Linked DNA regions of Homo sapiens: regions 2 and 3 are each linked to region 1. The links come from fine-mapping of genetic effects on gene expression. A gene starts in region 1. Each other region holds a variant in brackets. All regions are shown on one strand. Distances are from middle to middle. Region 1 holds the start of SCRN1 (secernin 1). Region 2 overlaps WIPF3 (WAS/WASL interacting protein family member 3). Region 3 overlaps PLEKHA8 (pleckstrin homology domain containing A8).

Region 1 (9,485 bases):
TATGAGGAAAATGGCTTCCTAAAAGATATCTACATCCTAATTCCTGAAATTTGTGATATTATCTTATATGGCAATAAAAAGGACTTTATGGATATGATTAGGTTAAGGATCTTGAGATGGGAAGATTATCCTAGATTAGCATGGCGGTCCCTAAATGCAATCATATGTATCCTTATGAGGGAGGCACAGGAAGATTTGATCACAGAGAGTTTTGAAAGCTATGTGAAGACAGAACAGAAAGAGAGATTGGAAGATGCTGGCCTAGAAGATTGCAGTGATGTGGCTACAAGCCAAGGAATGCTAGCAGCCACCAAATGCTGACAGAAGCAAGGAACAGATTCTCCCTGAGAGCCTCTGGATGGTGCCAGATCCTGTCAATACCTTGAGTCCATCCCAGTAATACTGATTTCAGACATCTGGCCTCCAGAACTGTGAGGAAATGTTTGTGTTGTTTTGAGCTAAGCCACCAAGTTTGTGGTAATTTGTTATAGCAGCCAGAAGAAACTAATACATAACATATCAAATTTGGAGGATGATGCTAAAGCAGTGCTTAGAGGGGAATTTATATCTTTATATACTTATATAAAGTTTATTTTTAAAGGTAAAGGTTTATTCCTACATATACTTTGAAAAGACAAAGAATCTAAAATCAATGATCTAAGTTCTAAGAAGCTAGAAAAAGAAGAGCAAATTAAACTCAAAGTAAATAAAAGAAAGTTTAAACAATAGAGAAAATCAGTGAAACTGAAAACTGGTTCTTCAAAAAGATCAGAGGAATCAATAAATCTCTACTGGACTAATCCTTAAAAAGAAAAAGACACAAATTTCCTAGAGAAGTGCAGAGGAGGAGACACTGCTACAGATGCTATGAATAATAAAGGATAATAAAGAAATACTATAAATTATTTTTTCCAATAAATTCACCAACTTACATGAAATGGACAATTTCCTTGAAAGACACAATTTATCAAAATTGACTTAAGGACAAATGAAAAACCTGAATAACCATATGTCAATTAAGAAATTTATTCATACTTTAAGATATTTTCACAATCAAAACTGCATTCCAGGTTGATGAAGTCATTAGCAAACTCTATCAAATATTTAAGGAAGGAAAAATACCAGTCCTACAAATACTCAGAAAATAGAAGAGATGGGTACACTTACCAGCTTATATTATGAAGTCAGTATCACCTATACACCAAAACCAGAAAAGAATACTATGTATCAATCTATATGCCAATATCTCTCATAAAAATAGGCACAAAAATGTTTTGCAAAATATTAGCACATTCAACCTAGAAATATATAAAAAAGATAATTCATCATAACCAAATTGAGATTTATCCCCCAAATGCAGTTAAACATTTGAAAATCAATTAATGTATTTTATCGTATTTACAGGATAGAGGATAAAAAGCATTTCATCATCTTAATAGATGCAGAAAAAGCAGCTGACAAAATTCAACACTGATTCATCATTAAAAACAAATGAAAAAACAAATAAAACTATCAGCAAAGTAGGAAAAGAAGGAAACTTCCTCAACATGATAAATGGTATCTGTAAAAAACTCTACAAATAATATCATACTTAGTGGTGAATGACTGAACTTGTTTGTTCTCACTGTTCCTCTATAGCATTAAGTAGGTCCTAGCAAATGCAATAAGATATGGAAAAGAATTAAAAGGCAAATAGATTGAAAAGGAATAACTAAAAATGTATTTTTAGTCAACATGATTGAGTACAGAGAAAATTCTAACAAATGATGAAAAAGTTAATAGAATTCATAAGCATATTTAGTAAAGTCATAGGATATAAGGTCCATATACAAAAACCAATTGCATTTTTATATTCTAGCAATGAACAATTGAAAAATAAAATTTAAAATGATTAGTTACAATAACACCCAAAAACATGAAATAATTATTAAATAAAATATGTCCAAGACCTGTATGCTGAAAACTCTAAATATTTGCTGAGAAAACTTACAGACAACCTAAAAAAATGGAGAAATATACCATGTTCATAGATTGGAAGACTCAATATTATTAAGATGTAAATTCTCCTCAAATTGGTCTATAGATTGAATGTGATTCCAGTCAGCATTTTGTATAGGAATTGGCAAGCTGATTCTAAAATTTATAACCAAGTGCAGAGTACCTAGAATAGCCAAAACAGTTCTGAAAAAGAACAAACTTGGAAGACTTAAGCTGCCTGACTTCGAGACTTGATATAAATCTATAATAATCAAGAGAGTATAGTATTGGCATAAGAATAAATACATAGCCGGGCATGGTGGCTCACGCCTGTAATCCCAGCACTTTGGGAGGCCGAGGTGGGCAGATCGCCTGAGGTCAGGAGTTCGAGACCAGTCTGACCAACATGGAGAAACCCCGTCTCTACTAAAAATACAAAATTAGCTAGGTGTGGTGGCACATGCCTGTAATCCCAGCTACTTGGGAGGCTGAGGCAGGAGACTCGCTTGAACCTGGAGGGCGGAGGTTGCAGTGAGCCAAGATTATGCCATTGCACTGCAGCCTGGGCAACAAGAGTGAAACTCTGTCTCAAAAAAAAAGAATAATTATGTAGACCAATAGAATGGAAGAGAGAGTTGAGAAATATACCTACATTTACACGGTCAATTGACTTTTGTCAATAGCATGGTAAATCCTGGGGGAAAACAAATGGTGCTGGAACAATTGAATAGTCACATAAATAAACTTGGAATTTTACCTCCACTTATTCAAAAATTTACTTGAAATGGACCATGGTCTTAACATAAGTGCTAAAAAACTATACATCTCTGGATGTAAACATAGAAGAAAATCTTTGCAACCTTGGAGTAGGCAAAATTTCTTAGGACATAAAAAGTATTAACTATAAAAGAAAAAATATTGATAAATTGAGCATAACAAAATTAAAATCTTCTCTTCAAAAGACACCACTAATGAAAAGCGAGACATATACTGAAAGAATATATTTGTAATACATAAATATGATAAAGAACTTGTATCCAGATATAAGGAATTCTTAACATGTAATAATAATACTAATTAAAAATATAAAACTTTTTAACAGGCAAAAGACTTAAACACTTTCCAAAAGAACATATATGAATGGCTAACAAGTATAGGAAAAGTTGCTCACCATTATTAATCAGCAAAGAAATATAGGCTGGACATGGTAGTTCATGCCTATAATCCCAGCACTTTGGGAGGCTGAGGCGGGTGGCTCATGAGGTCAAGAGATCAAGATCATCCTGGCCAACATGGTAAAACCCCATCTCTACTAAAGATAGAAAAATTAGCTAGGCATGGTGGTGTGCAGCTGTAGTCTCAGCTACTCAGGAGAATGAGGCAGGAGAATTGCTTGAACCTGGGAGGTAGAAGTTGCAGTGAGCCGAGATCGTACCACTGCACTCCAGCCTGGAGACAGAGTGAGATGCTGTCTCAAAAAAAAAAAAAAAAAGGCAATATAAATTAAAACCACGAGGAGATTTCAGTACACATTTGTGAGAATCGATAAAATTTAGAAGATTGATAATAGCAAGTGTTGATAAGGATGTGGAGCAACTGGAACTCTCATATATTTCTGATATAATGTAAAATGGTAAAAACCACTTTGGAATACAGTTTGGCAACTTTTTATAAATTTAAATATACACCTGCCGTATGACTCACCCACTTCACTCTTAAGTATTAGGTTGGTTGGTGCAAAAGTGATTGCAGTTTTTGCCATTTTTAAAACAGTAATGGCAAAAACTGCAATTACTTTTGCACCAATCTAATGTTTACCCAAGAGAAATGAAAACCTACACTTACATAAAACTTGTAGATAAATATTATTAGCAGCTTTATTCATAATTGTTCCAAACTGAAAACACTATTAGTATCTGTGGTCATCACTGAGTGTACCCTCCAGACATGTTTAGCAGACAGCCTCTAGCTATAATCTCCTTCTGCCTCAGCTGCAGAGAGTAACCTCTGTAGGGATCATGTCCTTCTCAGGGCGGAAGAGAAAAAAGGAAATCTGTTATACTTGTATTTTTTAGCTCTTAAGTCTCTGAATATGACTAGATGGAATATAAATGACCGTGTAACAGTTGCAAGTCATTTAAGACATTTTTTTTCCTTGCAAGCTAGCTCATGGAAATCTTATAATTTACTCAAAGTTAAACCTCACATAATTGATAGAGGCCAATGATTAAAGCCCTTACTGATATTTCTTGGTGTTCTCCACATTTGTTGGACAGTTCTGTTCTCTTATCTCTATTTATGCAGCTCAAATAATAGTAGGGACTGTCTTTTGGATACAAAGCAGAGACAAAATAAGTGTATTGCTGCTGGTTTTTGTTTTTTAAGACGGAGTCTCACTCTCTCACCCAGGCTGGAGTGCAATGGCACGATCTTGGCTCACTGCAACCTCTGACTCCCTGGTTCAAGCTATTCTCCTGCCTCAGCCTCCCAAGTAGCTGGGATTATAGGCACGCACCACCACACACAGCTAATTTTTGTATTTTCAGTAGAGACGGGGTTTCACCATGTTGGCCAGGATGGTCTTGATCTTCTGACCTCGTGATCCACCCGCCTTGGTCTCCCAAAGTGCTGGGATTACAGGCATGAGCCACCATGCCCGGTCATTGCTGCTGTTTAATAAGCGTTCATAGTGCCATATAATAAGCTTCTCCATGCAGACCCTGGGGAAAGCAGGTGTCTTTCAATCTCCATGTGTTCCTGGGCTCCTGGCCTCAAAGCTCCTGTGGCTGTGTAGGGACAAACCAACAGGCTTCAAAGATCTCAGGCCAGGCAGGCAGGTTGGCAGTATCCCCTATCCGTGTACTGAGCATATGGCTGCCTCCAGGGGAGCAGCGTAGGGTGCAAGTGCCATCCTTTACACAACAAATGACATATACTGGCTATAGGAAGGCACAGGATTGCATTTGCCTTTCTAGTAGTGGTGTAGTCTTAAACTAGACATTTAAAACAGTGACTCTGGCTGGGCACGGTGGCTCACGTCTGTAATCTTAACACTTCAGATGGCTAAGGCAGGAGGATCATTTGAGTCCAGGAGCTTGAAACCAGCCTGGGCAACATAGTGAGACTCCATTTCTACAAAAATATTTTAAAAAGTAGCTAGGCATGGTGGCACATGCTTGTAGTCCTATCTACTCAGGAGGCTGAGGTAGGAGGATCACTTGAGCCTAGGAGGTAGAGGCTGCAGTGAGCCACTTCCCTCGAGGCTGGGTGACAGAGCGAGATCCCATCTCAAAACAAACAAAAAATAAAACAGCGACTCTGAGACTTTTAAAAAAAGTTTAATATTTATTTTAAGTTCTGGGGTATATATGCAGGATGTGCAGATTTGTTATATAAGTAAACGTGTACCACGGTGGTTTGCTGCACCTATCAACCCATCACTTAGGTATTAAGCCCAGCATGCATTACCTATTTTTCCTAATGCTCTCCCTACCCACACCTCACGGACTTTCAGACTTTAACATGCAAGAGAAACAACTAAAGAGCTTGAAAAATGCGGGTTCCCTGGCTCCAGCCCCAGAGACTCTGAATTCCATAGATCTGGGCTGGAACCCAGGAATAAGCCCGCTAGAAATTTCTAATATTGATTATTTAGACTCATTGGCTACAGTTTTCTTGGCTAGACTAAAAGAACAGTAAAGTACCTTTGTGCTCCAAGAGTCTACGAACCAATGCTCTATTCTGCAGTACCTACACCAACTTCCTCAGCCCTTCCCCACTATCCGTTTACTCATGTGTCAGACTGTAAGCACAGGCTCAACATTCAAAGGGCATGGAAAAAAGTCTCCTTCTCTCCCCAGCACCCAGTCTCCCAGTTCTGCTCCCTGGTGGCATCTATTACAGGTTCTTACGTACTCTTCCAAAGATACTCTGTGCATTTACAAAAATAAGTACAGACATACATATATATTTTCTTCCCACAAATAACACACACAACGTTCTGCACCTAGCTTTTTATTTTTCTTTAGTTAGTATAGGTTGGAAATAGTTTTGTATTAGCAAATAAAGATCATTCTCCTTTTTAAAGGAAGCTGGATAGTAGAGGCAGGCGGATTGCCTAAGCTCAGGAGTTTGAGACCGGCCTGGGCAACATGGTGAAACCCCATCTCTACTAAAAATCAAAAAAAATTAGCGAGGCTGGTGGCGTGGGTCTGTAGTCTCAGCCACTTGGGAGGCTGAGGCACGAGAATCGCTTGAACCCGGGAGGCGGGAGGCGGGAGGCGGGAGGCAGGAGGCGGAGTTTGCAGTGAGCCGAGATCCTGCCACTGCATTCCAGACTGGGCGACAAAGCAAGACTCAAAATGTTTTGATTTTTGTTAATCTGGCTGGTGGAAGATGCTACCCCACATATTTGATTTGCAGTTAAGTGAGCCTGAATATCTTTTCGTGTGCCAGGATAGAATTGCATTTATTTTCCTCTGAATTACGTCTTCATATCTTTTGAGATAGTCTTTTCTTATTTACTTATAAAAGATGGAGTTGACGCTGGCATCAACACACACACACACACACACACACAGACACACAACACACAAGTCCCTGTACATAACTTTATTAACCCAGATATGGAATCTTGGCTTAGTTACGTGCTGTGTGACCTTGGGCAAGTTACTTAACCTCTCTAGGCCACAATGTCCAAGTACCTGGGACAGGGTCTGGCTTACCAACATGGTACAGGACGGCACTTTTAAAACCAGGGACTCGACTTGGACGTGCGAGTCAACAAGGTACAGGACACATTTCTCTCCGGGGAAATCTTGTGTGGGCGCCGAGGCCCGGACGTAGCAACCAAACGTCGGGAAGAGGCGCCAAAAGGATGCTGGGCCTGGCTCCTTGAAGCCCGGGTTTTCCCTTTTGAGAGCCACAACCAAGAAATAAAAATCTAGCAAAGAGGGGGCCACTTTCTGCGGCGAGATACGCCCTCTCGGCCGCTCCTCCAGCTCCCAGGCCCCCTCCCTACTCGACGGTGAGCAGCGCCGCGGCCCGTGCAGCCAGACGCGCGGGGTGCGGCGGGGCCCCGGGGGCCGGGGTGGGGGAGGCGGAGGGTGGGCCCGCGGTCACGTGAGTCGGGCCAGCTGCTGCGGGGGGCGGCGGGCCCCAGCGCCGGGAGTCTGGGTAGGGGGAAGCGCCCGGCGGCCGCCTCCGCCACTGCAGCTGCAGCCCCCGAGGTCGCCGCAGTAATCCGGACCCGGCAGCACCCGCACCCTCGGCGGCCGCAGCCTCAGCACCGCAGAGCGGAGAGCGGAGCCCGGAGCCCGCCGCCCCAGGTGAGCCGCGTCTGGGAGCGCAGGGCGTTTGCAGCGCTGCTTTCCCGGCGGTTTCACCCCACCCGCCATCGCCACCTCCTGCGTTTCATCTCCTCCCGCTGTCCCTCCGAACCCGCGGGTAGCGTTACCCCAGGCCGATTCCCGGTGCTGGCCCGGGCGGGCTGGGAGCCTGGGGGCGGTCAGAGGAGAGGTGGCCTCGGCCTGAAGCCGGGGTGACTCGGCTCGGGGACTGCGGGGGTGCAGTGGAGGGATGCCGGCCCCGGGCTCCCGCACCGCAGCCGGGTTCCCCGCGCTGCTCTTCCTGGGTTTCCTTTTCCTGGCAGCCAACCTGCTGCCCACTGGGATGTGCCTGTGGGCCCCTGGCCTCGCCACCCTGGGGTCTGGGGCGAGCCGGGCACCTTCCCCGAGGTGCCGTACCTGCTGCGCGGGCGGGCGCCGCGAACATGGCTGCCCGGAGACGCCCGCCGCCTTCGGCCCGGCTCTGCCAGCGCGTCCAACTCGCCCGCGGCCGCCGCACCGTGTCCCGGAGCAGCCCTCCCCGCTAGGCCGACGCGCGCGGGCCGCCCCTGGGTTCTCCGCGGGCCGCGCGTGGGACTTGACACAACTTCCCTCGAGCCGCACCCGGGCGTTCTCCGCGGGGCGCCGGGCGGGGCTGCCGAGAGGCCGGCTTGGTCGGCCTCTGCCTCCTCGGCTCGCTCTTGAGGCGTCGAGTATTTGGCGACCTCACTCGCGAGGGCCGAGAGAAATGTGGTCTGCAAAGCAGGAGGGGCGCTTGAACTTTAGAGAATTGGCGAGAACTCGGATTTGGGAATAAAAATGTCCATGAAAACATCGAAGGAAACTGTTACCTGCTTTGACTCAAAGCTGACCTTGTAGGGTTCTGTTAAATAACGTGGCTTTTCTGGATTTTCTGTCTGATTCTAGCATGCAAGTCCTTGACTTACGCTTGCGTCCGGCAGCCGGGTGGGGTGGGTGCGTGCGTGTGTGTGTGCGCGTGTGCGCGTGTTGTGTTCCCAGCCTGGTTAGAAGATGCATCAGTTGCGGAGGAAACCTATGCTAATTCAAAATGGCAGCATGAAAAATAGGCCAGGCGGAAGCAGCACAGACCACAACCATCAGCTGCCCCCTGACTTAAGCCTCAGGGAGGGAATTAGTGTGAGTCAAGGCTCATCCGGGTATGGAGTAGAGAGTGATTCTTGGAGCTGGCTAGATTTTAGGGTGCTGCAGGGTCCTGGGAGTTGTTAAGTGGGAAGTTTGGAGAGCTGTAATTATTTTTCCTAACTTATCAAAAGATGATACAAAACCTAGTTAAAACTCTACGGTTTTGTATGATTTTCTCCAGGCTCAACTAAAGTTGACTCTGTGGCTGCTGATGTCTTTTTGATGCACAACCTGGAGGTCGTTTGATACCTACAAGCTCTTAAAAGAGATGTGTGCACATTGTAAACATCATCCAAGAGCAGTGCACATAACAAATACCAGGTTCTTAGATCAAGTTTCATTGGAAGAACTGATTTAGCGACACGAGGAAGCACCCAGGCATGAGGAAATGGGAAATTCTTGAAAGGTGACTCATTTTAGAATTTTTTTTTTTTAAACAGCCTTTCTTTCCCTTTTCACTTCCGTGCTGCCAGCCATCTTGTCTTTTGGGAAGGAGATACATGAGGAGGCAAATGCTTCAGGGATAATGGAATAGAGGAGGATGAGCTAAGGTCGGGGGGCAGAGGTGGAGGCAGTCTTAAGGAGCCTGCTGTCAACCCCCTTTTTACAGCAGGAAGGCTGAGGCCAGCGGGGCGAATGGACGCCAAGATCATATATCTGGCTGTCAACTGGCAGTGAGAACCCAAATCCAGGTCTCATAACTCCCCCGGGTTCCACATGCTACCTTTTAGAGCCTGGGGGAGAACAGCAAGTCTGTCATTATTAGGAAGGCAAACACTTCGAGCAATGGGAAGCCAAACTGTAATATGAATTACAAAGTCTATAGGTGTTTAAAGTCAATGACAACACCTTAATTTCCTAATTCAAGACTTTTAACTTCTTAAGCTGTATCTACCTCATGTTCACATTTTCCAGTGGTGAAACTGTTTCTATAGTTAAGAACCAAAAACATTATTTTAGTAAAGTCTTTGAGGCAAGAAGTACATTTTTTGATTAAAAATTGAGTTGCTTGTGTTTGTG
Region 2 (10,443 bases), 75 kb after region 1:
GTTAATAACTCCTTCCCAGAAGCTGTATCATGAGATTTTGAGGGGACCGAGCCCTGTTACATGGATGTGAACAGTGAGGATCAGAGGTTTTATCAGAACACATTCTTTTTTTCTACCAACTCTCCAGAGCGTGAGTATAGGAGTGCCATGAGCTTTTTAGTCAGCAGTTTTGTAAACTCTGTATATAAAATCATTAACCACACATTGTGGGTGATGGGAAGACGATTTCAGCTGACAGAGTTAATGGCAACCAATAATGGTGGCCTGTAGCTGCTAAGAGCTTCACGCAGGTTTGGCCTGGGCTTTCACTGTTGGTGAATTTAGAGTGTCCTTTTAGGTGGGGCGGCTATTCTAAAAGTGTCTTTCTATCACTGTTAAGGGGGGGGGAAAGTGAGGTTCGAGGATGACGTAGGTAACTCTCCCCTCCCAAGTCCATGTTCCAAGTGGCTATGTAAAGCAAGATGATACAGAAAGCTGCTCTAAAATCTCACTGAGTGATTTCACCTTCGCCTACTATGAAATGTCTCATCAGACCTGACATGTCTGAGATAACCAAGGTGATTCAGGATTTGATCAAAAGAAGTCTAGTAAGAATTAATTACACAGAAGCCTCCTTTCATTTCTATGGGCCAAACAAAGGCCATGGATAACCCTACCCGCTTTATGTCATTACCCATTGGGAAACACAATGGCTACTTCTGTTAGGGTACATTGACCTTGGTCAAGCATCTTAAAGAAGGCAACCCTAATTGAGAGCTGTCTTGGCTAATACTCTGCACCACAATTGTGATGTCCTAGTCCTACCACTAGAGGGCATGGTACAGCCTGGCAAAAGTTAAAAGGGGTGTGGCAGCTCCCATCAGGTCTGGAGGTGGTCTATAAGCACAGTTGACAGTTGTGCATTGGGATGGGTGGAGAAAGACGACAAGAGAGCAGAGAATCTGCTGATGTGGCTGCGCTTACTTTTAGTGACTTTATGTACTTATATTAACAGCTGGAAATAGGTTGTTGGGTTTTGAGCAGGCTGTTATAGTGAGGAATGTTCATTTTTAAATGTTCCTAACAGATTTTGCTTTTGAAAAATGCTTGTTACATGAATAATTTGTGGACCAGGGATTGCTTTTCTGAAGGCAGTATAGGGAACATGAATATTCAAGATGAAATACAAAAATTATGTTTAAGGGTCATAGTGTATAAGTAGCTTCCTAGGAAACCCTTTGTGTATCTTTTCAGACTGGGGTGGGGGCTGAGCATGCTTGTGCAGAAAGAAGCCATAGCCAGAAAGGACAGAATCTCTCCCCCACTCCCTTGCCCCATAACCAAACATAAGCTAGCTAGTCTTGTCTAATAGATGGGATTTACTATAGGTGAAGATAGCCCTCATATTCAAGGACAGAAGCTCTGGCAGGAGTAAATTAGCAAAGCAGAAATAGTACCCTTTCATTCTTGGAGGTGCTTTGAAATTTTAGGTAGAATATAATCGAAATTATGGAGGTTCCTTAGTGCTCAATAATATAAGACCTGGTGTTATTAGAACGAGTCTTTCTTATAAACTAACAGAGCAGGTATATGCCTGTTAGACCTTAGCTGTGGGGTTCCTTTACTATTGGGTGAATCATTAGGTATAAAAAATAATCATCAACCAGGCAAATTACTTTGCTTCCTAGCTGATGTCATCCCACATTGGTACAGGTGTTATTCAGTACTGGGTGGTTCAGCAGGGAAGCCGGGTGGGACCAGTGTGTCTGTCATGAAACCACTAACTGCATTCCTGACTGAAGAGCCATCTGTCATTTATTGGGGAAGGTCTTCAGTTGAGCTCTCAGCCTTAGGAAGGAAGCACGTGGAGGAGGGACGGAGGAGGTTCCCTTGCTGGGCATGCTTCGTAGAGGGCCAGGAGCAGCAGGTCATGTGCACATGCCGTTGCAGCACAAGCTTATGCTTCCCGTAGCCGTGGCTTTTCATTCTGCACAGTCCCAGGTCCCAGCTCCCCTCTTATGGTTTCTGTCATAATGTGCTTTATCTGATTGACTCCAAACATCCCGAAATGTCACCTGCAGATTTCTCGTGGGAACCAATATGTACATGTTTGCAATTATGCTGTGAGAATTTAAATGTGTTAGATGGAAAATGCTATTGGCAGGGAATAATAATAAAAAAAAAAGAAAATCATTCTGTTTCCTGCAGTGGGAACTGGCCATGTAGTCTTAACAGTCTTTTGTACAAATATCTACAAAGCAGATAATATCCCTATCCAGTGCTTGCCCTTGGAATTGTCTCTAAATGCATCAAGCATACAATAAAAAAAACTGAAATTAACATCCAGTGGAGTGGCCTCTTCTGTTTTGTGTCTCGTGAATAAACGTGGGCCTCAGTCGCAATATAGAAAATGTATGAGAATGGATATATTTTTCTGGCTAGAATCTTTAGAAAACAGTCAGTTCAGCAGTTTCTTGCATCATGTAATGTTCTGTGGATAAATTCAGTCTTTAAATATAAAACCACAACGAAATATCACCTCACACCCGTCAGGATAGCTACTATTGAAAACAAAAACAACAACAACAACAAAAAACCACAACCAGAAAATAACAAATGTGGGTGAGGATGTGGAGAAATTGGAACCCTTATGTACTGTTGGTGGGAATGTAAAACAGTGCATCCATTGTGGGAAACAGTATGGAGTTGCTCAAAAAATGAAAAACAGAACTGCTGTATAATCGGGCAATCCCACTTCTGGGTATACACAAAAGAATTGAAAGTAGGGTCTGGAAGAGAGGTTGCACACCCATGTTCATAGTAGCACTATTCACAGTGCTAAAATCTGGAAGCAACTCAAATATCCACAGATGGAAGAATGGAGAAACAAAATGTGTTCTATCCATACAATGGAATATTATTCATCCTTAAAAAGTGGAAGCAGATTCTGACATGCTACATGGATGAACCTTAAGGATGTTATGCTCTGTGAAATCAACCAGTCACGAATATTATATGGTTTCATTTCTATGAGGTACCTAGAGCAGTCAAAATCACAGAGACGGAAATTAGAAGGGTGGTTGCTAGGGGCTGGAGGTGGGGGAGAAATTGGGAGTTACTGTTTAATGAGTATAGAGTTTCAGAAAGTTTCGCAAGATAAGTTATGGAGAGGGATGGTGGTGACGGTTGTACAACAATATGAATGTACGCAACACGAATGAATTAAGCACTAAACATGGTAAGCATGGTAGACTTTATGTGTATTTTACCATAGTTATTAGAATGGAAGTCTAGATCATCAGAGTGGCTGGTACTCTGTGCCAGACATCTTGATTCCAAGGCATCAGCAATGCCACAACAGGAGAGGATGCCACTTAGGGAAAAAGCCAGCTCTCTTCACTCCTGTGACCCAGAAATGCCAGCTTGCTTTCCATGACTCTCCACTGTGACAGGTAAAACGCAACTGAATGTCTTGCTCGTGAAGATAGGACTTAGTCACCTGCAATGAATGACCTATTTCAAGGTCAGGGTAGATGACTGCTCTGTTTACATGATAAGGAGCTGCTAATTCTGAAATTTTATTCCCAGCTCTCTTTTCATAAACATTGTACCCTCCTGCAAAGCTCTGGGTGACAAAGCCTGTATTCTTTTGCTGGGGCTGCCGTCACAAAGTACCACAAACTGGGCAGCGTAACCAGGAGAAATTTCCTGGTTCACAGTTCTGGAGCCCAGACGTCCCAGGAATAAGACATCTGCAGGGTTGGTTCCTTCTGAGGGCTGTGAGAAAGAATGTGTTTCATGTCTCTTGCCCACCTTCTGGTGGCTTGCTGGCAATCTTCAGCACTTTGGGACCCATAGAAGCAGCATCCTGATTATCTCTGCCTTCATCTTCATGTGGCGTTCTCCCTGTGTCTATGTCTGTGTCCAATTTCTTCATTTTATAAGGACACCAGTCATATCGCATCAGGGGCCCACCCTAATCCAGTATGACCTCATCTTAACTAACGATATCTGCAATGGGCCTATTTCTAAATAAGGTCACATTCTGAGGTACTGGGGGTTAGGACTTCTTCAACCTATGGATTTTTGTGGGGACACAATTCGACCCATAACAGAATGGGTGGGTGGAGGATGCTGAAGCCTCCCGGGGCACCGTCTGAGAATTTGGAACTTGCTTCTGGAGTCCATGGCCCTTCCCATTAACTTGCTCCCTCTCTAGGAAGCACGTCTCTCACACTTAGCTCCATAAAAGGTGCTTACACTTCTAGCTACTTCACCACGGCCATGCTCAATGTGACTCTGAAGTTCATCATCCACTTTGTAGATTATCTTCGGCCCTTACTTTTTCTTCCCCATTCAGACTGGCCCTTTTGGCCAT[C/G]AAAGAGCCAATCTGTACCTCCACCAATAAGAGAGCAATAAAACGGCCCCTTAACTAATTCTGATGCAAAGTGTGTAGTAACCAGCTTTGAAATTAGTTTCTAGATGAGATTTATTTCAGGAACATCTATGAATTTTAATGACTGCTCTCTCATTGTTATCCAGCAGCAGAGTTAGTGAAGTGTGGTCTGAGTAGCTCAGCAAATACTGAATGAAGTGCCTGGGATGCAGCCAGCAGAGCCCTGTTTGTGCCCAAGCATGGAACCAGCAAACTGGCTGCTCCCCGGGGTGCAGGGTGTGCATCACTGGCTCCGTTGTGATCCAAGGGTTGAGGGCTTGCCCATGTGTATTACATCATTGAATCTTCACCAATATACACTCGGGTACATATTTATGTCCCCTTTTGACAAATGAGGAAGCTGAGGCACAGATTGTAAGAGGCAACTTGTAAGAGGCAAAATGGAGATTCAGATCCTGGTTTGCCTTCTAAGCACTAGCTCTGAGATAGCTTGCCTAGCAGATAAATCTCACCTCCCCTGAACCCTGTTCCCAAAGGTCCACCTTAAAATACTACAGGGGGATTCAAGATGATTCTGTTCCTACAGGAGGCTTTTTTGGGGGGTTTGCTGAGTTGGGAGTGGGGACTAAGTGCACGTAGAGGGAAGGTTGTTCTATTTCAACACAATTTAGCAGAATTTATAAGCAATACACTGCCCATTCTGTGTTAATCAAACTGAATAAATATAGTGTTATCTACTTTTTAAAAAATGCACCTGAGAAATTTTTTTTTTCTTGCTTGTTTTTTCCAAATACCAATTAGGCTAGTTAGCTCAAGAAAGAAAGGCCCTGTTTCTAACACAGTATGTTACAGCAAGCACCGTATCCATGTAAATATCTATTTTTTTTCTATCATTCTTAGAACTTCAACTTCTCCTGATCCTTAAAAATGTTTGGTTTAGATTGATACTGGTGACCACCGATGGGTTTTAACAAGGAAACGACTGGAAGCATTTCCACTTACTAAAGTTTATTAAGTACAAAGAAATGAATCTGCGGAAGGAGACATCAATAAATATAAAATACACGTGAAACATTGGAGGAGTCACAGACTGCAGTGTCAGTGAGAATATGTGACAATGGCGGGGACTGTGTGACTCAGATGTCTCTAAGTCTGAGTTTACAGTCAAGGGGTTAAACCTTTACAGCGCCCAAGGGACTCAGTGCACCAGCATGAGCTCGAAGGGTTGTGAATTCAGTGATAGGTCTCAAGGGGAGATGGGATGCCACATTCCTGAGATTTCTCCCTAATTGCCATTTTTGGTTTCTGCTCCTTCCTCCCCTCTGTCCTTTTTTTTTTTTGAGTTAGGGTCTCGCTCTGTTGCCCAGGCTAGAGTGCAGTGGTGCCATCTCAGCTCACTGCAACCTCCACCTCCAGGGTTCAAGCAATTCTTGTGCCTGAACCTCCCAAGTTGCTGGGATTACAGGTGTGAGCCACCATGCCTGGCTAATTTTTTGTATTTGAGTAGACAGGGTTTCACCATGTTGGCCAGGCTGGTCTTGAACTCCTAACCTCAAGTAATCCACCCACCTCAGCCTCCCATGCTGGGATTACCTGCATGAGCCACTGCTCCTGGCCCGCTCTGTCCTTAAATAGTGTTATTTTAATTTCCATCCCAGCCATAGGAGACACGAATGTCTAAACACCTCATTAGGGCAGGCAGTCTACTCTGAAGGTGGAATTGCCTTTGTCTAGGGTCTTCTTAATCAGGATCATTAAAACTTCTATAATTATTTTACACAACTGTGAGGGCAGTGGAGTGGACACTGTTATAATAATAAATTCTGGCTTTTTGGAAATCTTCCAGAACCAATAAAACAAATTAGTTATGCCCAGAGCTGATGACCTGCAAAAACTTCTACTTATTTAGCTGTTACAGTTTGGGCTTGATTCATTCCCCTGGAGAAGGGAATTTGACCCTGGCTCACTTGCTTCCATCTGGAATGAGAAAGCACAGCACTGCTGCAGGACACCACCTGAGTCGTTACTCCAGACAACAGTGAGGCAGATGCAGTCATGTTTGCCCACACCCTCCTGACCGGCTGCCTTTCTGGATGGCTTGGTCTGTTCATGATATACTTCAGGGGTGAATGTGTGCGTGGGTTGTTGCAAAGCAAATTTCTTTTTCGCTGGTTTCCCTCCCCTCCCTGCCTGATTTCCTTTAAAGGGCAGCTATTTTGAGCACAGCCCAGGGATCAGTCTGTTTCCTTCTATTTTTTCTCCTTCCTCTGTCACAGTCTTCCCCGACCAAAGATGGGGAACATCAGGGGTCAGGCAGCAAGCAAAAACACATTTCCACTCCCTACAGGATCAAGAAGAGGGAGTGAAGAGCAGGACCAGCCCGGCCTGACCTTTTCCATATTCAGAGTGGCTGAGCTTGCACACATCTCCCCACAGACAGGTGCCCACCACAAGGGAATGAATGTGGAGTTGTCAGGCAAGGTTCTCCTTTAGCTCAGAAGGGAGCTAGGTTTTGCCTGACGGGTGGCTCCAAGGATCCTAAGATGGGGGCAGTGAGGCACTAGGTATTTGTGGCAGGTATTTCACACGATGTTTCGTTCTACACTTTTTCATGTCATATTTTCCATGGAAGTCCACACTCGAAGCAAGGGCAGAAGGGGAGACCTCTGAGATACAACTGGTAGTTTAGCATAATGATGAGTTGTGTATGTTTTTAATCTGTAGGGAAGAAATACCAAAATCTCATAAAGCTGGCTACTGGGATGGGACTGGGAACTTGGAGGGAACAGGATGAAAGTGACAGAGACTTGGGCACGAGGGACACTGTAAACAGTAGGAGCACTGGCTACTTGGAGGATTATTCAGTTACAAAAGGGGCCCTGTGGTTGGCATCGGAGGGCCAAGCCCACTCTTGCCTTTACTTTGTGATGTATTACATTAGGCAGCAAAAAAAAAAAAAAAAAAAAAAAAAAAAATTCCCTGTACTGCAAAATGGAAGCGAGACATGGCACCTCGTTCCCTGGAGGCTGCGCGGCACTGTCTGGGTGTGGGGGACACGCTACTTCCTCTGAGCTGCATCATTGATAAGGCATTATTTGGTTTGATTTTGCAGTTAGTGTGATGAGAATATGAAATTATGCCAATAAGAAGCCGTTGTGGATATTTATAACTTTGGGGCTACCTGCAAACTAAGGACTCTCTACAAACGGTTCAGAATCTAGGAAGGGCCAGCCTGCAAGCAGATTCACAGTCATGGAGTGGGCACTAGGTGGAGGGACAGGGCTCTATCTGTGCTGACAAATGCCAAGATGCAATGCAAAAAATGGAAAAATGAGGGGTGTTTTAAAAAATATTACCGAAATAAAAGTCAATTAAAATACTGCTTTAAAGCCCGTGCAAATCACATATTTACAATAAATAAATTCTCAATTCCAAGCCTGTATGCCAACTGAATTACAGCTTGAGCATGGGGTGGGTGGGGTCTGACATGTTGTTCTGCAACCTGGAACCCCAGGACCTTCGCTTCATCTGTCTTCTCACCGAAGAGTCTTTAGAGATAACTGTGGAAACATAACAGAACATTACCAGGTGGAGTTAGAAGACTCTTGCACATGAAAGCCTTCCTCCTCCACCCCCCCAAACAGGCTGGGCCCCGAAGCTTCTCATTCATGCAAGGCTGTCAAGTTTGGGGAGATGCCTATGCAAAGAGCTGACTTTTACCCAAGGGGCTGTGGGTGGAAACCAGATGAAATGGGGTATGTAGTTGATGGTATGTGAGGACCTAATACTGTCTTATAAACATTTATAGAACCAATCATCAGCAATTCACTTGACAGGAAGCTCAGAGAAATAAAAAAAACGTGCTGGAGACCCCAAGTTAAGGCAGTGGAAAAGCAAGAAACCGATTTAGGCATTCAGACTTCCAGCCCAGGGCTCCCACCCCATGCACTGACCACTCTAGCCATAAAAAAGAGCAGTCCCTGGGGTATTGTTTGCAATGTCTAGAACCCAGTGATTTCTCAATTGTTTTGTGTCTCACTGCAGTGAGAATTAAGATGGTATCCAGTGAGATACAAAGATCTTCTTGACTGTGGAATGCCCAAAGGAGACTACAATCCACTTTGAGTAGACTTGCAGGCGGAGATCAAAACCACCAGACTCAGGTGATCTGGGTGCATGCCTGCCGTGAGGCTGGAGACCAGATCCTGCACAGTGTGTGACACGTTGGTAGTGAGGAGGATTCTTGTCCCTGGAGATTCTAACATGCCAGGAAAAGCAGTGAGGCATTATGGAAGAAGCACTGAACAAGAGGTCAGAAGGTTTGGGCATTGTGACATGGGCAAGTTCTTCAAATTTCTAGAAAGTTTTCTCTTTTATAAAAATGGCATTAAAGGTATCTCTCCAGCTTCCATCACAGGGTTATTAAAAGGATTAGATGATATAACATATGCAAGCTAACTGAAAAATGTAAAGAGCCATACGAATATGAAGGAACATGATTATGATTATTACTATATTTTCCTGGTCACGGGAATAATATAATCATTGTAGAAAACTTGGAAATTGCATAAACGCCAAAAGAAGAAAGTACAAATCAGCCATAGTCTTCTAGAGTGAATGCCTATTAACATTTTTTCTCCATTTTTATTGTGGTACAATATAAATAACATAAAATTTACACTAGTAACCTTTTTTTTTTTTTTTTTTGAGACGGAGTTTCACTCTTGTTGCCCAGGCTGGAGTGCAATGGCGTGATCTCAGCTCACCGCAACCTCCGTCCACGGGTTCAAGCGCTTCTCTTGCCTCAGCCTCCCGTGTAGCTGGGATTACAGATATGCGCCACCATGCCTGGCTAATTCTGTATTTTTAGTAGAGATGGGGTTTCTCCATGTTGGTCAGGCTGGTCTCGAACTCCCAACCTCAGGTGATCCGACTGCCTTGGCCTCCCAAAGTGCTGGGATTACAGGCATGAGCCACCACACCCAGCTGACTAGTAATCATTTTTAAGTGTATAGTTTAGGGGTATTAAATACATTCATAATGTTTTGCAACCAATCATCAGTACCCACTTTTGTTTAACTCTTTTCATCTTGTAAAACTGAGACTGTACCCATTAAACAATACCTCTCAATTTTCTTTTTCCCTCTAATCTCTGGCAAGCACCAGTCTACTTGCTGTTTCTACTACCGTAAGTACTTAGGTAAATGGAGGCATATATGGTGTCTGTCTTTTGTGAGTGGCTTATTTCACTTAGAATAATGTTCTCAAAGTTCATCCATGTTGAAGCATATTTTAGAACTTCCTACTTTTTAAGCTGGATAATATTCCACTGTACATGCGTGTATCACATTTTGTTTATCCATTCATCTATCTATGATACTTGAGTTGCTTCTACATTTTACTTTATTTTTCCAAGTTCAGGTCAGACAGGTAATGTGCCAAGGTTGTAACAAGGTTCAGAGAGTGGCACATCTCACACATGCACATGAATACTCAATCATCACGCTCATGAACTACAAGAGGATCAAGTTGCTTCTACATTTTAGCTATTGTAAATAATGCTGCTATGAACATGGGTGTACAAATATCTCTTCCAGGCTCTGCTTTAGGTTCTTTTGGGTATATACGCAGAAGTGGAAGTGCCAGATCATATGGTAATTCTGTTTTTTATATTTTGAGGAACTGCCATACTGTTTTCCACAGCAGCTGTACCATTTCACATTCTCACCAACAGTGCATAAGGGTTCCATTTTCTCCACATCTTTGCCACCACTTGTTATTTTGTTTTGTTTTGATAGCAGCCGTCTTGATGTGTATGAGGTGGTATCTCATTGTAATTTTGATTTTTATTTCTCTAATGATTAGTGATGCTGAGCAACTTTTCCTATGCTCATTGGCCATTTGTTTATCTTCTTTAGAGAAATGTCTATTCAAGTCCATTGCTCATTTTTAAATTAGGTTATTTGTTTTCTTGTTGAGTTTTATAAGTTCTGTATATATCATGGATATTAATCTCTTATCAGATACACGATATGAAAATACCTCCTCCCATTCTGTGGGTTGCCTTT
Region 3 (10,443 bases), 78 kb before region 1:
GCATTCTATACTGAACCCTTCCCCCCACACTTGTTTTGGGGCAACTCAAGTGTCAGGCACAAGCTAGCAATCACAATAATCACAATATTCATTCAGGGAGATCAATGACCACAGTGAGCATCCATTGCCTAAGAACTCAGTAGAGGCCTCTCAGTGATTGTGTCTTCACTGCAGAGAGCTCTAATGGAGGTAAGCACTAGCACCTTGGAGATAACAGATCTGAGTTTAGACCTGGGCTCTGACATAGCCTCACTCTGGTACTTGGGGACTGGAATTAATTGTTCTGAATTTGTAAAATAGTGGGAGTTAATCCTGAGAATTAAGATAAAGAATATGAAAGTACCTGTTAAGAATGCCTGGTACACAACAAGTGTCCAATAGCTACATGGTAGCCATTATGATTATTCAAGGTGTATTGAAGGTAAGGGTGAGCAGTCTGTAGCTTCATTTGGTCCAGCACCTATCCCAGTGAACAGTGAATGGGATATGGAGCTTTAATCTCCATGCTTTCAAAAAATATTTCATTTTCATTAGAATCTGATTTGTTGTAGTGTACATTCTTCCCACTTTACCGCCCTCCCTAATAAAGCACGACCCAAACAGTTCTTTCTTTAGGCAAATGATGCATCCTTTACATCAGTAAAAGATACCATCTGCAAGGCTACTTTATTCCCCAACCTTCCAAAGAATGTGAGTACATTCTATGAGGTTTCCTGACATACAACTGCATGAGACTGCCTTTTCATGACTAGATTTGACTAAGACTGACCTTTTCCTGGATGGGAAGAATCACAGAGTGTATTGCTGACATAAAGGAGCCATCTACTCCTGCTATTTTATAAAGCAGTCTAAGTGACTTCCCCAGGAGACTAAGAGTCTCAGGTTTGTGTTCTTCCTAGTTAAACATGCTGGGAAGAAGAGGGTGGTGGGTAATCAGAGCCAAAACACATGAATACAAAACACCTTCACAATGAAAATAACTGGCTAAGAAGAGATTTCTAGCCCTCCTAGCCACTGGCACACCCAATACAGTTAATATTCAAGGACAAAATTCAATTAGTGAAAAAAAAATCAACTAAGACCTAAGAATTAAAAGGAATGAATACAATGGGCAGCAGAGGGAGCTATTAGGTTGACTTCATCACCTGAATGCATCATTTCCCTTCAATGATAAGTATTTAGGATCACTGCTTCCTACGTACTTCTGCTAGGATACTTAAGCTTTTTACTACCTTATCAGAAAGGCAACCACTTATGAGGCAAATCTTCACAAGGTCATTGGAATTGGCTAGAGTAATTAGAATTGGCTAGGGTAAAGCATCAACTCTTTTATTCATATTTCTTTAACAGTCTTTGCTATTCCAGACACTTTTTACTGCTGACATTTCCACACACCAAAGGCCTATAAACGTAAATGAAATAAATAACATTTTGTTCTTATCCTCAAAAACAAAGCAAACAAAAACACCACACATACACACACACACACACACACACACACAACTTTGTTTCTGACAATCATGACTAGATAAATAACTGGGTAAGAAGAGATTTCTAGCCCTAGCCACTGGCATACCCAATACAGTTAATAATAGGAGACAAGAAGGATCACTTACCGCAAAAACCCCTCGAACTACCCAGCCATGGTGTTGCCGCAATGTTTTACCATATGCATTATCTTGAAAAGAAGAAAAACTCCATGAGGAACACTTTCATCAGAATTTGATGTGCTATTTGTATAATGTACTTTTTTTTTTTTTAAAGAGACAGGGTCTTGCTCTGTCACCTAGGCTAGAGTACAGTGGTGTGATAATAGTTGCAGCCTTGAACTCCTGCGCTCAAGTGATCCTCCTGCCTCAGCTCCACGAGTAGCTAGGACTACAGGTGTGGATGACCATGCCTAGCTAATTATTTTTAATTTTTTGTAGAGATGAGGTCTCGCTATGTTGCCCAGGCTGTTCTGGAACTCCTGGGCTCAGGTGATCCTCCCACCTTGCCCTCCTAAAGCATTGGGACTACAGGTGTGCACCACCATTCTTGGCCATATTTGTATAATGCATAGTAGCACGATACTATTGGTATTTGGAAATTATGAAAAAAATCTAATTACAAGATTTTGGACCCAAAAAATCTAAAGCAGTAAAAAAGCTCACATGGAATTTTTTTTTTTTTTTTTTTTTTTTTTAAGAAACACAAATACTTCCACTCTTACTCTGGGTCAATCAATATATCTGAACTTCAGCTTATTATCATGGTGGGAAAAGGTCAATACATATAAAGAAACAAAGAGGGAGGAAAGGATATTGAAAAATTGAGACAATACAATTAGAAATACTTTGAAATGTTCTGTGACCGTGAGCCAGTCCCTTAGCTGCCCTCTCTAACCATCTGTTTCCTCCTTTGTAAAATAATCTCTAAGATTTTTTCCAATTTTAACATTCTATTCTGGGATGCCAAATGTTTGTCCTAAATGACCCTATGACCCTGGATATACAGTATTTAAGCTAGAAACCTTCAAAAATATTTATGGAAAGAATGGCTTGAAGTTATTAAGCTAAAGTAATTGGTGAGAACTATATTAATAAAAGCCATTCATGTTTCATACTTTAATCTATAATTTTTGTCCCAATGTATTTTAAAAGGAGATTTTGAAACTGGCATATCATAATTTTAATTATGAAAAAAATCCCAAGAACCAGATGGATGCATTTTATGCAAAGGATGCGTTCCTGAAATTTGAATAATTCAATATATGCAAAATTCAAAACTGATTTCTCCACAGGATTAAATGCATTCTCAGGAGGCACAGATCTACATCACCATGGTGCATTTTTATTTCAATGTTCCACTTTATTTCCTAAGCATCATCTCCAGTAGCAACAGAGCACTCATTTCTAAATTAACAGCACAGTGTACCATGGGGGCTATTTGACCTTCTTCATGTTTCTCCATATCTAAATTCTATTCCAAGCATATTTATTTTCATGTGCTAGTTTTAGCACCAGCACAAGTACTACCACCATTTCATGAATGCTTAGTGTGACATTCTAAGCCTACAAAAATATTTTCAATTCTAACAAGAGAAGATGTTAAAATAACAGATAAACAGACACTAAAACCACAAGTACAAGTTCCTATGCAGTGAAAAGCAACGTGGTTCACAGGACATTGCCAAGGGAAGTCAGGTATTTATTTGCATTTTACTGGCCAAAATGGCACTGCCATGTGGCTACAGCTTCAACCCAGTTTACAATCAACTCAAGCCTTCCAGCTTTGAAATTATGTCATTCTAGTCAACTTTATTTTAAAATTGGAGTGAGGCTTTATTAATACTTTTAGAATATCCTATTTCAATTTTACATATTCAAATTTTCACAAAATGCAATTATATGTTATATAAAATACATACTCAATACATATTGCAATATATTTTATATAAAAGACTGTACATGTGAAATAGAACAACAGATTCCTTTGGCTCTCTAAAGCTTAGGAATATGCTGGAATGCCAGTATCCAGTGTGTTAAAGCTAAAGCAGAAGCAATAAGTGATAATTAATACATTCAAGTATGAAGAAGACTCTTAGAGCCTAAAGGAGAACCCAAAATTAAACTTTTTTCTTAGGAGAACAGTCTGAGTAAACTAGGGCATGATCAAAGATACATGTCTTCAATGTAAACCAAACAAAACGTAGGTGATTCCCTGTAAGAAGACATGGCATCAGGGAAATTTCAGATGGCATACAAGACCTTAGTGAGGATATCCTGAGAAATGTGAAGAAAGGGGTTGCTGATTCACAAAGCGTACAGTACAGATGGGCAGAGAATACTAGGTACAGCCTCTGATAAAAACCAGCAAGACAACCAAATTTTCAACCATTTGAGCAGCCATCTGGGCTGGCAAGAGGGTGTACAGGTCCATGGAAAACATCCTGAGGTAAGTTACCAAGGTAAGATACTGTGAATCCTTTCTTTCTTGTGTCAGTATTCCATGCAGGGCATTAAATGCCATTATAAATAAAGAAATACCATTAAAATCTGCTGGTGGATATCTACCATGAACACCTGCTCTATTCAACAAGAATTCAGGGCAAGTCTACCACACAGTAGTATCTTTAGGTGATTTAAATTCAGTCAATTCCCTGTCCTCAAGAAGTTGATGGTTTATAGAAGAGCCAGTCATTTAACAATCATTATTGTATAAGTCAATAACTGCTAGAGTAGC[T/C]ATCTGTATGCAGTGCTACAGGAACAGTAAGAAGGGAGAAACTAATCCAGTCTGGGTTGGGGGTGAGGCGTGTGGACACAAAGAATTCTCAGAAGGAATCCCGAAGGCTGGGTAGGGTAGAGAGCAGAGTGGTAGATGGTGCGGCAGACAGAGCGAGCATCACAGCGTTGTGAGAGCTCATGGCATGCTGGGCGATGGTGAGCAAAATTCATTGGATCTGAAGAACACCAGAGCTTGCAAACTGGGTTGGGCCAAATTGTGAGGACCTTTATCCATCATGTCAAAGATTCTGATCTTCCACCTAAGGCACAGTGGAAGTTTTGAAAAATATAACATTTATCGCTTTTTTTGGGTTTCATGATTGATGTCCGTTGTTGAAAATAAGGAAAATATTTTAAAAGGAGAGAACTAAAGAAACCTATAATCCTTTCTCCCAGAGATAACCACAGTGGGTATTCAGGAAAAATATTCTGCTAGTTTTTTCCCCCTGTACAGAGAACATTACCTTCTTCTGTCAGCAAAGTCATGATCATTCTGATTCAGAATTGTGGTAGGGAAATAACAAGTTGAAATTCACACTTCTTTACAGTCTGTAGCAAGTAACAGCTATCCTGGTGCCTGAGCCTCCAGCTCCAAGGCCCACCTGGCTAGACAGAATGCTTGTTTAAAAGAGCTCTGGGCCAGGCACGGTGGTGGCTCACGCCTATAATCCCAGCACTTTGGGAGGCCGAGGCGGGTGGATCACAAGGTTGGGAGCTCAAGACCAGCCTGGACAAGACGGTGAAACCCTGTCTCTACTAAAAATATAAAAATTAGCCAGGTGTGGTGGTGGGTGCCCGTAATCCCAGCTACTCGGGAGACTGAGGCAGAGAATTGCTTGAACCTGGGAGGCAGAGGTTGCAGTGAGCCGAGATCACGCCACTGCAGTCCAGCAGCCAGGGCGACATAGAAACTCTGTCTCAAAAAAAAAAAAAAAAGCTCTGGATTCGCTGCTATGCCAACCTCAGAGACCTTATACCTTTCCTATACATTGCCATTCAAGTTAACCGTTCAAAAAAGCCTAGAAACTCTTTTCCATGCCCTCTTCTAAAAGACAGCAAAAAGACAAGGAAGACAAAGGTGCTGTGAGTCCAAACAGCATGGGGAGTCTGGCTTAAGGATGGGAGAGTGTTTGTACAGCAGCACATCTGTCTTCCCACTTGGCCCTAGTAGACAAAGAAGCTGTTCCTTGTTATGCTTATACCTTGCCAAAGGAGAGTTCCACCTGGCAAAATGTGGGCCAGATGACCTAATGGGAGAAGGTGTGTCAAAAGAATTTGGGCTGGGTCTTGACTGAGATCATTGCTGCAATTTAAAACCAACAAATGAAATAAAAGTCATAAAAAAAAAAAAACACTTCCCAAAGTCCTTAGCTGACTTCTACGCTGCAAATATCCCTGCCATGTGAGACTGATGGCATTAAAATAAGATGAAGTCTAAGCCTGACCTATTTTGGTTACCTAGAGAAGATTAGATAATGAAATACATTAATCTTCACTGTAATACCCATTCATTATCATCATGCATGTTCTATAATCTGGGAGTATTTTTGGCCTCTGAAAGACATAAATGATACCCTTCTCCCAGTTCTTTGAGATGTGTCAGTTCCCCAGAAACTGAGTCAAAATTTCTAAGTAGGAAGCCTTGACAATCACCTTGCCTAATTCTTTTCCTTTTAGAAATGAAGACATGGAAGACCCAGAAAGGTAGTGACTTTCCCAAGGTCACAAAGTTAAAAGCAATGAGACCTGGGGACACTCTTGTTGCATCACACCATTCTGTCAAAAAAACTGGTGTTTACTCTGTAAACAATGTAATAAAAATGAAAAATATGCCTTTTCCAATCCTTTTCTGAAAGAATTGGCACCTGGTTATGGAAACAGCACAGCTCTCATTCATTTACTATTAGTAACTCAGAAACTTGCTATCAGGTATTTAGAGATTATGCCTAAAGCTTTTATAGTAACTGAGAGAACAACCCTTCCATTACTGTTGGTGAACAACCATTCTGTCCAGGAACTTTGTATACAGGAAAGTGTTTTTCTACTGTAAACCTATAATTGGTAAAGTTATTTTGGCTTATAGAGAAGACGAGAGAAATGTCAATCTAAGTCTTAAGAGAAAGCCTGGGAAGTAGAGAACCAAAGCCAGAAAGGGCGGAATTACTCACTGGGCTGAGGAAATGACAATCATAGTTCTGCAAATGTGCTCAACTAGACAGTTCTGAGGCAAGAATTAGGAACCAGGAGATTTGAAAGCAGGTAGTCAAGTCTGGCAGGAGGCTGGTGGGAAACAGATAGGCACCGGGGAAGTGTGCTTGCCCTAAGATCCTACGAGTTCTAGAGAGAACGGTCCAGTAACTCACTTAGAATAGTAAGAACCTTCATCCTATAACTCATGTCTTTTTAAAGCATAGGTGGGCAAAAGAACAATGGACCAGAATATGGAGTCTAGAACAGATCTCTCTCTCTCTCTCAAAGTTGGTATTACATACAAGTGGGGAAAAGAATGGGTGATCCAATAAATGCTGCTAAGACAACTGGCTTTCTGATTGGAAATAATAAAATTATATCCCCACCTTACACCATTCACAAAAATAAATTCCAGGAAGATTAAAGACATAAATATGAAAGCAAACCTACAAAACTTCGAGAAGAAAATGTCAGAGAACATCTCTGTGACCTCAAGGGAGAGAGGGATTTCTTTAAGAAGTACAATCCATAAAGAAAGAATGACATGTCTGATTACATAAAAACTGAAACTTCTGTATACCAAAAGACACCATAGATAAAGAGCAAACGCAAGCCACAGACTGACAGAAGACATTTTAACCCATAACTGAAAAAGATTAGACATTTTAACCCATCACTGAAAAAGATTAATATCCAGGAAATATAAAGAACTCCCAGGAGTTGATAAAGAAAACCTAAGAGAAAGGTGGTCAAATACATGAACAGGCAACTCACAGAGAAGGATATCAAACTGCCAGTGAAGACAGGAAAAGCTACTCAACCTTACTTGTAATCTAAGAACAAAAACTTTGGCAATATTCTATCATTTTACAGCCATCAGGCACAAATTTAAAAGGCTGACAATGACAAGTGCTAAAAAGAATGTGGAGTATTGGGAACTCTCACTACTCTGCTGGTAATTATAGACTTTGGAGAGCAATTTGGCAATATCTAGTCATGTGGTTCAGCCATTCCAATTGTATTATGTACTACAGCAGCAATTCCCAGTGTAGTCTCCAAACCAGCAGCCTCAGCATCACCTGGGAACTTGTTAGAAATGCAAAGTCTCAGCCTCAAGTCAGGCCTACAGAGCAATCTGTGTTTCAAGGAGCCTTCCAGGTGAGGCTAATACAGGTTAGAGTTTGAGAACCACTGTTCTGGCAGCACAGCTTCTCAAGCAGTAAGGCCCCATGAACTACCAGTCTGTAGACAGCCAGAGTCCCTGGACCAGTCCCTCTTAGCTATGAGAAGCCTCCTCCTTTTTCTGGTGTGCTGTCTGGACATAATTTTCCATATGATAGAGAACATGTGTGAAAGGAACGTGTACATTGTAGAATTGCTTTTAATGGTGAAAATCTGTAATCAACTGTGTCCATTAACAGTATATTAGTTTTTCGAAACCATGGTCTATTCATACAATGAAATGCTAAACAGCAAGGAAAATTAATGAGCCAGGACTACAAGCCACTTCAACAGTGGCTAAAGTCTGAAAATACTGAGTGAAGAAGGAAGAATGTGCACAATATGATACCTCATATACAAGTTTAAAACATGTAGTCCAATGCTAGATGCTGCTTATGGACACATAAATATATAGCAAAAGCATAAAAACATGTATTACATAATGAACTACGCAAATTCAGGATGATGATCTCTGGAAAACGATGGGAGTCACGGGATTAAGGAGTGACACGTGGGCACTTAACTGTATTGAACTATTTTTTTCTATTAGGTCAAGTGGTAGATATTTGTTAAATGCCTAAATTATTTATAATTTTCTTTTTTGAGACAGAGTCTTGGTTTGTCACCCAGGCTGGAGTGCAATGGTGCAAACATGGCTCACTGCAGCCTCAACATCCCTGGCGCAAGTGATCCTCCCACCTCAGGCCCCCAAGTAGCTAGAACTACAGGCTGGTACCACCACACATGGCTAATTTTTGAATGTTTTGAAGAGACAGGGCTTCGCCATGTTGCCCAGGCTGGTCTTGAACTTGTGAGCTCAAGTGATCTGCCTGCCTTGGCCTCCCAAAGCGCTTTGGCATGTATTTTTAAAAGCAGAGCTACTAGGAGAGTAACCTCTGAATTCTTTATAGTGACTATGCTTAAGGCAAATTGACTTGTATGGACAATAACCAGTGGAAAGAGGTCAAACAAGCACCCAGAGATGCCCTTTGTTAATTTCAGGCACTGTTAAGACTAACGCTTGTGCTGCCAGCCAATCCTGCCAGTGGAGGCATATGCTGCAAATGGTTCTGGAAAGAGTATTACAATTCACATTCCATAGTATTTTCAGAATGGCCAACTTATGATTTGATGTCAAATATCTGATTATGAGTTCTGACTTTATCTCTCTCACTTATCTCTCCTTATCTGTGAAAGCCTTTCATATTAAATACATGACTGAGCATCCTTTTAAAATTTTTTCTATTCTGTGCCAGAAAAGGATCTTGGTTGGGTTAACTTTTACTGACATTTATGGGATCATTCTGAGATGAGATATGTGGCAATATGTTATCCCACTGAGCACAGAGCATATAACATTTAATACAATGGTGCATGAAATGCCAGAGCAACTTTTCTTCCTTCCACTTGCAAGGATGCTTTCCAAAACCTCTTTCTGATGTGGAATATGCAATGGAGAGGGGGACTCAGCTCTAAAGCAGATTATTAAACATATCTGCCTTGTGAACCCAACTCCCTCCTGAAAATGACCTCTAAAGAATGTTAGGACACTAAGGGAACACAGCAGCTCTTAGCATGAAACCACCCAAAATGTTCCACTCTGATTATCATTATGGGGAAGCCAAGTGATGGCTCAAGTGCAAAAAGGGGCAGTGTAAAGTCTAAGGCTCCTTCCAGATGCTGGAAGTATTCCAGGTCACAGAACTGCAGCAATACAATAACTAGAGATGCATTTTCCAGAAAGGTAAAGGAGACAAGGCTTCTACAATGTTATTTAGGACTTCTACATATAAATGTACTATTTCCAAGGCCATTAAGACCATACAAGTTTCATGAACATTCACCTCAAACCTTACTTAAGCAGTATTTTTATTGGAAAGCTGTCTAATTATGATGAAAAGGAGGAAAATAAACTGATGCTATAACTAATTTCAGCAGTTTTACTCCTGCTTATTAAAAATCTCTTAGATGCAGTCAAAATCACAAAATTATCAAGATGTAGACAAGTGACAGGTGAACCTCAAAGGCCTAAGTCTAGATGACTAGGTCTCAAACTTCAGCATGGATTAGAATCATCTGAAAGACTTGTTAAAACACGGACTGCCAGGCCCCAGCCTCAGTGTCTGATTCAGCAGGTCTGGGGTGGAACCGGATAGTCTGCATTTCTAATGAGTTTTCAGGTGATAAAGATGCTGCTGACCTTGGAACAGCTTGAGAACCACCGATGGAGATTTTGAGACCCTAGGGAAGGTATTTATCCTCTTTAAACCTCAGTTTATTCACTGGAGAGTATTTGGAAGATTAAATAAAATATTTATCAAAAACTTAGTGTAGTAGTTACACTGGGTGCTCTGTAAGTGATAGCTGTTTTTAAATTCAACTTTAGAATTTAAAAAAGCCAACAAACTTGCCTATATATGGCATATAAATTGCACACACTCTCTTTTACCTACTCACTCACCCTCCCTCATTTCAAACAAGGTATCAGTTCTACTTATGAAGGCTGGGACTTCAAAATGAGAAAAAGGAACCATTATCCCAGAAGAAATATGCATCAAGGAGCCTACAGGTTCTGAGTAACTATTGTGTAAACATTTCTCAAAAAACCGTTTACGCAGAGCTTGTTGTGTCTGTGTCTGTGGGAGGGGAGGGTGGGTTTAACAGGGGAACTTTGGAGGGAGGGTGGGTTTAATAGGGGAACTTTATCTCCTCATACTAAGCAGCAGCAAGAAACTAGGGATTTCCACAAAGATAGGATTTAAATCAT

Evidence for each region. PIP is the estimated chance that this variant, and not a neighbour inherited with it, causes the effect.
Region 2: its variant is fine-mapped to the expression of SCRN1 in whole blood (INTERVAL, PIP 0.97).
Region 3: its variant is fine-mapped to the expression of SCRN1 in whole blood (INTERVAL, PIP above 0.99).

The regions. Positions count from the first base shown.
Region 1 is chr7:29,987,461-29,996,945 of GRCh38, reverse strand. It overlaps SCRN1 (secernin 1), which reads left to right and starts at 7,145. Exons shown (of 8, transcript NM_014766.5): 1 at 7,145-7,304. It overlaps FKBP14-AS1 (FKBP14 antisense RNA 1), which reads right to left and starts at 8,290. Exons shown (of 3, transcript NR_187577.1): 1 at 8,153-8,290. RefSeq lists silencers at 7,019-7,358, 7,379-7,428, 7,439-7,708, 7,799-7,918.
Region 2 is chr7:29,911,985-29,922,427 of GRCh38, reverse strand. It overlaps WIPF3 (WAS/WASL interacting protein family member 3), which reads right to left. Exons shown (of 9, transcript NM_001080529.3): 9 at 5,367-7,935. The coding sequence ends at 7,912. It overlaps SCRN1 (secernin 1), which reads left to right. Exons shown (of 8, transcript NM_014766.5): 8 at 1-2,319. LOC124901827 (small nucleolar RNA U13) reads right to left here and starts at 9,900; the gene lies at 9,796-9,900. The variant C/G (reference allele first, on the strand shown) is at 4,358.
Region 3 is chr7:30,065,306-30,075,748 of GRCh38, reverse strand. PLEKHA8 (pleckstrin homology domain containing A8) reads right to left here. Exons shown (of 14, transcript NM_001197026.2): 13 at 1,617-1,678. Among named protein-coding and RNA genes, the nearest start is that of PLEKHA8, 42 kb to the right of the region's middle. The variant T/C (reference allele first, on the strand shown) is at 4,225.